2 separate regions of the Homo sapiens genome follow, and region 1 is linked to region 2. Evidence: fine-mapped expression QTL. A gene starts in region 2. The other region holds a variant in brackets. All regions are shown on one strand. Distances are between the middles of the regions. Region 1 overlaps RAPGEF6 (Rap guanine nucleotide exchange factor 6). Region 2 holds the start of RAPGEF6 (Rap guanine nucleotide exchange factor 6).

The links.
Region 1: its variant is fine-mapped to the expression of RAPGEF6 in whole blood (INTERVAL, PIP above 0.99).

The regions. Positions count from the first base shown.
Region 1 is chr5:131,611,966-131,617,351 of GRCh38, reverse strand. The region is part of intron 1 of RAPGEF6 (Rap guanine nucleotide exchange factor 6); the gene reads left to right. Among named protein-coding and RNA genes, the nearest start is that of RAPGEF6, 21 kb to the left of the region's middle. The variant T/GTTT (reference allele first, on the strand shown) is at 3,066.
Region 2 is chr5:131,632,623-131,638,008 of GRCh38, reverse strand. RAPGEF6 (Rap guanine nucleotide exchange factor 6) reads left to right here and starts at 2,780. Exons shown (of 28, transcript NM_016340.6): 1 at 2,780-3,047. The coding sequence starts at 2,979. RefSeq lists enhancers at 2,211-2,410, 2,421-2,670, 1,679-2,878, 2,971-3,060, 3,008-3,590.

The sequences.
Region 1 (5,386 bases), 21 kb after region 2:
ATTTAAACACGGTTGTCTCCAGAGTCCAAATTGGGTTTTTTTTTGTGTGTGTGTGTGTGGTGCTGTTTTTTTAGAGACCAAGTATCTCCACATTGCCCAGATTGGCCTCCTACTTCTGGGCTCAAGTGATCCCTCCTGCCTCAGCCTCCTGAGTAGCTGGGACTGCAGGCATCTGCCACTGCATCCAGCTGTCTTCCACATTGTTAGACTGCCTTCCAAATGATTTGTAGAAGATTCCTCAGCATAACTTTTCATTATAGAACCATAGCTGCAGAATGTATGTATGATACAGTTGAATTTGTGCTGACCTTAGGATCTATCCTGGGACATTTTTCTTTGTTAAAATTCCTGGGATAGATTTATTTTCTAGGTTAAGAAGAGAATGAATAAAATATCTTGGTTAATGAAAGTTTTGGATAATGATGTTTTATTGAAAGTTTTGTGTGCCTGGGTGCGGTGACTCACACCTATAATCCCAGCACTTTGGAAGGCCAAGGTAGGAGGATCCTTTGAGCTTAGTTCAAGACCATCCTAGGCAACATAGACCTTGTCTCTACAAAGGAAAAAAAAAAAGCTGGGGGTGGTGGCACACTCGAGAGTCTCAGGAGGGAGGATCACTTGAGCCTGGGAGGTTGAGGCTGCAGTGAGTCGTGATTGTGCCACTGTACTCCAGCCTGGGCAACATAGCGAGAGCCTGTGTCAGAGAAAAAACGTTGTATGTGATGAATTAAGTGTATCATAGGTAAGAAATTCACTTGTTTTAAACTTTAAGAACCAGAAAAATGCAAAAATTTTTTAAGCATCCCAGTTTGAGTTTTCCAAGTTTTGGTTGATTTTCTAAACACCTGTAGAAGGACAGTGAGGAGAATTGGGAAATGGAGTTTCCGAGAGCAGCACAGTTGCTTGGCATAACATTGTAAACTAAGGAAGGGGAAAAAATTCCAACCTGCTTAATTAGAAATATATGTTTAAATTAGTAATTACTTGTTTATACAGTGCTCCAAATATGAGTTTATTTTCATTTAACAACTAAATTGAAAATCCACAGAATATACCTGCAATGAATGCTGTAAGTAAGAATTGTTTAAAGGGTATACAAGAGTTGTCTTGTTATACAATGGCAGCTGTCCACCCACCTCAGCTTATCCCACCTTCGCTATAAAAACTACTGGCTGAGAGGGTGTAGCTTATCTGTTTTAGGAAGTACCAAGTCATCACCACTTCCTCACCTTCTTCTTCTTTTTTTTTCGCCCCTAGGTAGAACCCATTATTTTATTCCCTAATCCTGAGCTGGTACTTGTTTTTCTAATACCCCTGGACAATTTCTGCAGTATTTTGTTGCAGTTACAGAACTAGTGCTGAATCAGATGTTACTGATCTGGGATGTCAGGATATGCCAGGTGGATAGTTTTCCCACCCTTCTCATGACTTCCCTCTTTTTTTTTTTAATTGAGACAGGGTTTTGCTCTGTTGCCCGGGCTGGAGTACAGTGGTGTGATCTCCGCTCACTGCAGCCTCCGTGCCCGGGTTCAAGCAATTCTCATGCCTCAGCCTCCCAAGTAGCTGGGACTACAGGTGTGCGCCACCATGCCCAGCTAATTTTTTTGTATTTTTAGTAGAGACGGGGTTTTGCCATGTTGGCCAGGCTGGTCGTGAACTCCTTACCTCAAGTAATCCGCCCACTCTGCCTCCCAAAGTGCTGGGATTATAGGTGTGAGCCACTGTACCCAGCCGACTTCCCTCTTGAAAGCTACATAGAGCAGCTTTCAAGTGCATTCAGCGTAAATGATTAGCACCTCCTTGAATCTAGCATTTAAATTTTTTACTGCCGAAGACTGTCTGTAAGACTTCCAGTCTGACTCTGTCAGGGTTCTTTCTTTTTTTATTTGTGACTTTATGCCTAATAGATAATATAGTACCTCAAGCTTATCTTGCAGATAATTGACACAAAAGCCCCAAGAAACCCTTTTCCAAGCTCAGCATTACAGACTCCACAACTCCATGCTGTCCTGTGTAAACAAAATGCCATAACCCCCACATCATATGAAAAAGAATTAATCAGCTCACCACTACAACCATTCTTTATTCTGTTTTGTGAATGCTTAGCATTCTTGTGACCCTCAAACTAGGTACACAAAGAAAGGGACTAGGATTTACTAGGCATCTTAATGCTTGTTGTCTTTCGCTATTAATAGGTCAGACAATCCAGAGTGACATAGATCCCACTTATAAACAGTGGTTCTCAAACTTTAGTGTGCAGAAGAATCACCTGTAGGACCTATTAAATCACAGACTGCTGGTCCCTACAACCCAGATATTCTGATTGACTAGATCTGGGGTGAGGCCTGATAATTTACATTTCTACAAAGTTCCTAAATGATGCTGATTGTGCTGGTTCAGGATCTCACAGGGTTATTACTTACATGCAACAGAACCCAATTTTGGCCAATCGAAAGAAATAATTTACTGAAAGGATTCTGGGTAGCTACAGAATTACTTGGAATACTGGAAAACCAGACTTGGGGCTAGGCTTGGGATACTAGAAAAACAGGCTTGGGTCTGTGACCCTTATCACAGATTTGGTAGATACTACTGCTACTAGCAGTGAATAGTGAGTGCCACAGTTTGCACTGTGGACCACCTGTACTGTCCATTGCGTATGTTGTAGACCCTTGATATGGTTTGGCTCTGTGTCCCCACCCAAATCTCACGTTGAATTGTAATCCCCAGTGATGGGGGAGGGACCTGTGGGAGGTGATTGGATTATGGGAGCAGATTTGCCCCCTTGCTGTTCTCGTGATGGTGAGAGTTCATTCTCTTGAGATCTTGAGTTGTTTAAAAGCATGTAGCACTTTTGTTCTACTTTGCTGTCTCTCTCCTGCTGGCTATGTCGAGATGTGCTTGCTTCCCTTTCACCTTCCACCATGATTTTAAGTTTCCTGAGGCCTTCCCAGGCATGCATCCTGTACAGCCTGCAGGACCATGAGCCAAACCTCTTTTCTTTATAAATTACCGCGGCTCCGGTAGTCTTTTTCTTTTTCTTTCTTTCTTTTTTTTTTTTTTTT[T/GTTT]TTTTGAGACAGAGTCTTGCTCTGTCACCCAGGCTGAAATGAAGTGGCATGATCTTGGCTTGCTGCAACCTCCGCCCCTCAGGTTCAGGCGATTCTCCTGCCTCAGCCTCCCAAGTAGCTGGGATTACAGGCACCTGCCACCACGCTCAGCTAATCTTTGTATTTTTAGTAGAGATGGGGTTTCACCATGTTGACCAGGCTGATCTCCAACTCCTGACCTCAGGTGATCCACCCACCACAGTCTCCCAAAATGCTGGGATTACAGGTGTGAGCCACTGTGTCCAGCCGGGTAGTTCTTTATAGCAGTGTGAGAATGGACTAATACAACCCTGCTGCAGCCACTGGCTGCCCAAGCGGATTCTATGCAGTTCTTGCTTCTCGGTGTCACTAGCTTCTGATTTAAAGTCTGGGATGAATATGTCTAATTGGTAACACTTGAATAATTTGCCCCTGCCTTTGTTGTATGGGAGGTTGGAAAAATAAAAATTTGGTGTTTTCAGCTTTCATGGTGGGAGACAGAACTCCACTGAAACTTATAAGGTGGTCTGTTGTCAGAGAGGAGCTCATTCATGCTTGGCCACACTGTAGCTATTTTTGACCATATGTTTCAGGAGCTAACAAAATATGACCAGCTATTTTTGTAAGTAAAGTTTTATTGGAACAGTCACACCCATTCATTTACCTGTTGTCCATGGCTGTTTTCATATTATAAAAGCAGAGCTAAATAGTTGTGATAAAAAACCATCTGGGCCACAAATATTTACTATTTGGCCCTTTATTGAAAAAGTTTGTCAACCCCTGACAGGAATAATGCTGACATACATACATATATATATATATATGAAGAGAGAGAGAGAGTCACACACAGACAGACAGACACACGGAGTCTCGCTGTGTCGCCCAGGCTGGAGTGCAGTGGCGCAATCTCAGCTCACTGCAAGCCCTGCCTCCTGGGTTCACACTATTCTCCTGCCTCAGCCTCCCAAGAAGCTGGGACTGTAGGCGCCCGCCACCATGCCCGGCTAATTCTTTGTATGTTTAGTAGAGACGGGGTTTCACCGTGTTAGACAGGATGGTCTTGATCTCCTGACCTCATGATCTGCCTGCCTGGGCCTCCCAAAGTGCTGGGATTATAGGCGTGAGCCACCACACCTGGCCATAATGCTGATATTTTAGTTCAGGGTCATGCAGTCAACATTACAGATGTTGTGAAGGACTACATGTTCATTTGTCCAAATTGTCCCTTTAAAATAAGGAGATTACAAACAAATATTTGAAGCTCTTTGAGGAGGGGCTTTTCAGATTTAAAGTGATAAACCTTATTAGTCTCTCTTTAGGCAGAGAACTGAAGATACATGTATATCTCAAACTTGTGAGTGAAATTCTCTTTCAGACTTTAACATTGAAAAGTTAATTTCTAATTCTTTCTCATATATTCATGGCATTGTTAATGATGTGCCGAAGATGTCCTGTAACTTGAGAAAGGAGAAAATTATATGATATAAGTTTAGTTGAGAGTCTTAGAAAATTCTGGTTCCCTGTAACACTAGCCTACCCACATGGAGTAAGTCAAGTTATGGGAGTTCTGTTTGCCATAACCTAACTTTTGTGTATTACAATTTTCAGAACTTGTTTGCCACCAGAACAAGTTGTCTTGTCAAAAATTACAAGCACATTTCCACAGGATAGACATTTTGTGAGTGCCTGCCTGCCTACACCTAACTCAGTGGTTGGGGCCCAGGCAGCCGTGTTTGTAGTACAGACATTCCTTGACTTACAATGGGGTTATATCATAATACAACCATGGTAAGTTGAAAATCTTGTAAGTCAGAAATGCATTTAATATACCTTACCTACCAAAAATCATAGCTTAGCCTACCTTAAACATGCTCAGAACACTTACATTAGCCTACAGTTGGGCAAAATCATCTAACGCAAAGCCTATTTTATAATAAAGTGTTGTGTATCTGGTATGATTTATTGAATACTGTACAGAAAACGGTGAAAAACAGAATGATTGAATGGATATTCAAATTATCGTTTCCCAGGCTGTCATCACCAAAAAAAAAAAAAAAAAAAAAAAAATTAGCTGAGCATGGTGGTGCACGCCTGTAGTCCCAGCCACTTGGAAGGCCAACGTGGGAGGATTGCTTCAGTCCTGGAGATCGAGGCATCAGTGAGCTATGATTGCCGTCACTGCACTCAGCCTGGGTGACAGAGTGAGACCCCGTCTCTAAAAGCAAAACAAGACAGAAACATAATTCAGTGTCCACTGAATGCATATCGCTTTTGCATCATTGTAAAGTCAGGAAATCTTGTCG
Region 2 (5,386 bases):
GGCCTGTTAGGAAGCAGCCGCACAGCAGGAGGTAAGCAAGCATAACTGCCTGAGCTCCGCCTGTCAGATCAGCAGGGGCATTAGATTCTCTAGGAACAGGAACACTATCATGAACTGCACATGTGAGGGCTCTAGGCTGCATGCTCCTTATGAGAATCTAATAATGCCTGATGATGTGAGTTGGAACAGTTCCATACTGAAACCCTCCCCCTAACCCCTATAGAGAATTTGTCTTTCACAAAACCAGTCCCTGGTGCCATAAAACGTTGGGGACTGCTGCTATAGGGCATATATCAAAGAAAGGACTTGCTGTCATAAGGTGTGTTATGTTTCAACTTTATTACTTTTTTTTTTTTTTTTTGCCAAAAGTGACTTCCCAACTTGCACTTAACCAGCAGTTTGAGTTCCTCTTGCTCCACATCTTCACAAATACTTAAATGTGTTTCTGAATTGTTATAAGTGAAAAAAAACTGTATTAAAAAAATCTATTCAATTATTCAAAGTTGAATTTCTACTTTAGAGGAATCACTTCCCAGGCCGGGAGCGGGGGCTCACGCCTATAATCCCAGCACTTTGGGAGGCCAAATTGAGTGGATCACTTGAGGTCAGGAGTTCAAGACCAGCCTGGCCAATATGGTGAAACCCCATTTCTACTAAAAATACAAAAATTAGCCGGGCGTGGTGGCGGGCGCCTGTAATCCCAGCTACTCAGGAGGCTGAGACAGGAGAATCCCTTGAACTCCCGAGTAGTTCAAGGGACATTGCAGTGAGCCGAGGTCGCGCCATTGCTCTCCAGCCTGGGCAACAAGAGAAAAACTCCGTCTCAAAAAAAAAAAAAAAAAAAATCACTTCCTAGAGGCAAAATAATGGAAATAATAAGGAGTGCTCGGATTGTGCAGCATACTAAGTGCTTCATGTGAATTTTCTCATACTAAGTGCTTCATACTAAGTGCTTAAGTGCTTCACGTGAGTTTTCTCACGTAATCTTACTAAGTGCTTCATGTGACATACTAAGTGCTTCATGTGAATTTTCTCACTTAATCTTAAGAAAATTCTGAAACAATAGGTCCTTTACTATATTCCCATTTAACATAAGGAAAATGAAGGCAACATACTAAGTGCTTCATGTGAATTTTCTCGCGTAATCTTAAGAAAATTCTGAAGCAATAGGTCCTTTACTATATTCCCATTTAACATAAGGAAAATGAAGTTCAGAGATGTTAAATAACTTCAAGTCACTTAACTAGAAGAGGTCTAATATTAGAGACACAAATTCTAGGTCTGTTTGCCCCTAAAGTTCAAGTTCATGGTGATCATGCTTTATAGTTCTTTCTCCCTCTTTCAAAATATTGATGTGACTCTGAAAATTGATCCTTGAAGAATGGAAGGGTTAACTTTTGTTTGTGATCCTGGGCAGATCTTTGAGAGGTTATATTTGTACAAAAAATGAGGAAAACGGATCGTCTGCAACATCCTGTGATTTTTTCCACAATTACTTTATTTCTACAATGGCTATGCCACACTTCGCTGGTAAAGTTTTTGATCTATACCTGAAAAAGAGAAATGCTAATAGTATGTTGTAAACTCCCAGTTTGGGCAAGCCCCAGGACCAACAGAAAACAGTCCTTAAGTCATTGCCGGTCCCAGAAACGGTGTTGTAGCCTGAACTCTCATTGTTTTCAAATATAATTTTAACTCTTATTACGTCATTAAAATTACTGTGAAGCAGTCATTAATTGGAAAGCATGTCATAATCATAAATCACCTTGTTATTTAGTGAACTATGCTAACTGCTGTGAGAAATACCAAGGTGTACCTAGATGTAGTTACAGCCATCAAGGAGCTTAAAATTCAGTGGAAAGGTGGTGTCGCCAAAGTTAGTTACCTATGAACTTATGAGAAAGGGTAAGGAGTATCCTAGAACGATGGATTCTGGAATTGTCAGTGAGCTTATTGTTGAAACGGCCTCAGCAGCTCTCTGGCTGCTCCTAAGGGTGGTCTGTTTTTCTTACCAAGGGAGCAGTGAAACAAAACTGGCTTTATTCGGTCTGTTGGGAAGCAGACTAGAATGTAAAAAGTATTGCAAAAGTTGCCACTCGAGTCCCAACCCTAAACGCAGTTGCCTGAGGGAGGGCTGCCCCGGGCATTTAGTTACAAGAACGCAGTCTAAATCTAGTTTTTTGACTCAAAGGTAATCGTGAGCTGGCCGCGGCACCGGCTGCCTATCCTGGCCGTGAATGTTTGCTTTCTCTGCCCTGGTCTCAGGACGTCCGTTTCGAATAGATCAAGCACTTCTCTGTCGGCAGCTTTCACAAGAGATCTCGTTTTATTTAAAGAGATATGAGGTGTGCGTGGAATTCCTTCTTTGCCGAATGGCGGCTTCTACTTCCGCATATTCAAAGTCGGCAGTAGAAGTTGCAGAGGAGAGCGCAAAGCCGGACTTGGCCACACCCTGGGCTTCCGGATTTGGGCACAACAGTTCTCTCCAGTCAGAACGCCTCCCCACGGTTCTGCCCCAAAATGCTATTTTTGCTCAGGTCCTCAGCGCGTTTCCGGTGTCTCCAACGGATGGAGAAGACGGAACCACAACGCCAAGGCAGACCCCGTGACTGATTTAGGTGAGGTCTCGCGAGGTGTCTTTAAATCTCACGACGACAGCAGGAAACGACTTACTCGCACCGCCCCAATTTTAACGTCACAGTGGAGTTACTCCCTTGGGCGTTTCTTAGCGTGCGCGTGCGTGCTGCGCATGCGCACTTACTCTCCCCCGCCCCCGCGCAGACTTGTCTCCGGCCAGTCGCGCGTGGGTAGAGGCCTTAGGCGGGCGTTGCGAAGGGTTGTTTGCTAGAGTTCGGACCTTGTTACGGCGCGAAGTTCCCTCCTTGGGGCGGGGGAAAGGTACCGCACCCGCTACCTAGTGTGAATGAACTGTGGCGTGGGCTGCTAAGGGCAGGCTGCGGAGTACCCGGGCCGTGGCCATGAACTCACCCGTGGACCCTGGCGCTAGGCAGGCGTTGAGGAAGAAGCCACCCGAGCGGACTCCCGAGGTGAGGCTGGTTGACCTTTATGTGCGTCTCACAGTCCAGTAGACAGCATCCTCCTGTCTGTCCGAAATCCGCGGCGACTGCCCTCTTGCCAGAGTCTCGCACCTGCTACTGGGAATCTGTTCGCTTGAGTCTCTTCCCTGACCCAGGCCCTTGTCGCCAGCAGGGTGCCGACCGCCCTTCCTGCCTGTGATGCGGTCTTAACCCGCGTACCCGTCCTTGCCGGGGGCTTCTGAGTGTCGTTAAGAAAGCACCATTACTAAGTCGTATTTTCTGAGTTGGGTAATATGAGTTTCGCAGTTAGATGCCCATTCGTTTAAGTAGACTATGAAAAACGAGATGGAAATTGTAAGGGAAGTATCTCAGCCATGTAATTTAGAAATAGTTTTTCTTTAAAGGTCTCTGAAATATTGTACAGTTGCCTAAAAAAAAGATAAAGTTTTCAAAGTTAGTTTAAAAGTTTACATCCAGTCAAATGGTGAATTCTGTAGTAGATGATGCATGTTTAAAGAACACCACTGTAGGTACTTTTTCAGACTGTCACTGGGAAATTTTACAGTATTTTGTACTTGGATCCAAAATTTGCTGTGTCGAGTTAACAGTTATGGCATCAGCTTAAAAGATTTTTCATTCGACCTTCATGAAGGCTAGTTTTCAGGCATATAACTAAAACCTGTTAGCTTTGCTTATCCCGGTAGAATGCTAAGGTTTTGGGGAAGGTTTTCCTTGATTTGGAGGTTTCTATAACAAGTGGGACATATTTTCTAAACAAAACACTAAACAGTGTGAGTGGATTATTGGATTGTTTTGTTTAAAGTTGCAGTAAATGAAATGAAATGCTTTGGTTAATTCTTCACTTTGGAGTTTTTCAGATATGTAGTGTTTTGCATACTGAGTCTCAGTAACGTTGGGCTGACCTTTTGGGTCGTGACAATTATTCAGGTCACAACGGAAGCCATGATAGGTCAAATTATGTTATTGAAGATCCTGATGTTTGCATAGGAACAACACAAATTCTACCACTTTCCAGAGTTCTCTTTTTGAGATATACATTTATAATTCGATGAGTGTTTGTTTCCTTATGATGATTCTTGAAGTCAATGTGAGCTGATTTATGAATTTCAGTAGGCGAATTATCTTACAGCCTTTATAGCATTGGAAAGTATTATACAAGGCTTACGATGTGTATTGCAGGTTTCAATTTAATTTAATTTAATGTTATTTTATTTTTTATTTGAAACAGTCTCACTCTGTCACCCAGGCTGGAGTGCAATGGCGCGATATTGGCTCACTACAACCTTTACCTCCCGGGTTCAAGCGATTTTTCTGCCTCAGCCTCCGGAGTAGCTGGGATTACAGGCAGGCGCCACCACGCCCGGCTAATTTTTTGTATTTTTAGTAGAGACGGGGTTGCACCATATTGCCCAGGGTGGTCTCAAACTCATGACCTCAAGTGATCTGCCCGCGTTGGCCTCCCAAAGTGCTGGAATTACAGGTGTGAGCCAAGTTGCCCGGCTGCTTTTAATTTTCAACATTACTTGTGCTACTAAATTCACATTTTAATGGAAAAATCCTACTGCTCTTTAACAGCAGAATTATTTATTTTGAAATTGCCTATTTTATTTTTTTTGAGACAAAGTCTCCCTCTATAGCCCAGGCTGGAGTGCAGTGGCACGATCTCTGCTCACTGCAACCTCCGCCTCCTGGGTCCCGGTTCAAGTAGTTCTGCCTCACCCTCCCGAGTAGCTGAGATTACAGGCACACGCCACTATGCCCAGCTAATTTTTGTATTTTTAGTAGAGACGGGATTTCACCATGTTGGCCAGGCTTGTCTTGAACTCCTGACATCATGATCCGCTCGCCTCGGCCTCCCAAAGTGCTGGGATTATAGGTGTGAGCCCCGCGCCTGGCTGAAATTGCCTATTTTTGAGCCTTAGGAAATTTTCTAAACTGTTCATAAAGTTATGTTGGCCACTGTGTGCTGTGTTAAGTACTTTATTGTGCTTAATTGGAACAGAAGCATTGTTCAAGGGAATGCTAAACAGCTGCCCACAGTACACAGAATGTAGCCCTGACATCTAGCAGCATAAGAGGTTAACTGATGCATTGGTAGTGCTTTTGAATGAGTGTAGAATTTGTTTGGGGTAAAGAAGTATGAAGAAGGAAATCTGAATCCTAGTGATGATTTGTTTGTGATAAATAATTTGACAAAATTCTCCCAAGTTCATTTCTGTTTTCAGAAGGTCCTTTTACTGGACTCCCAAGGGTCTATTATGAATATATTAGCTCTATAGTTGCTTATTGGGAGTCTAGCAGCTGAAGGCACTAGTCTGTGCACTATG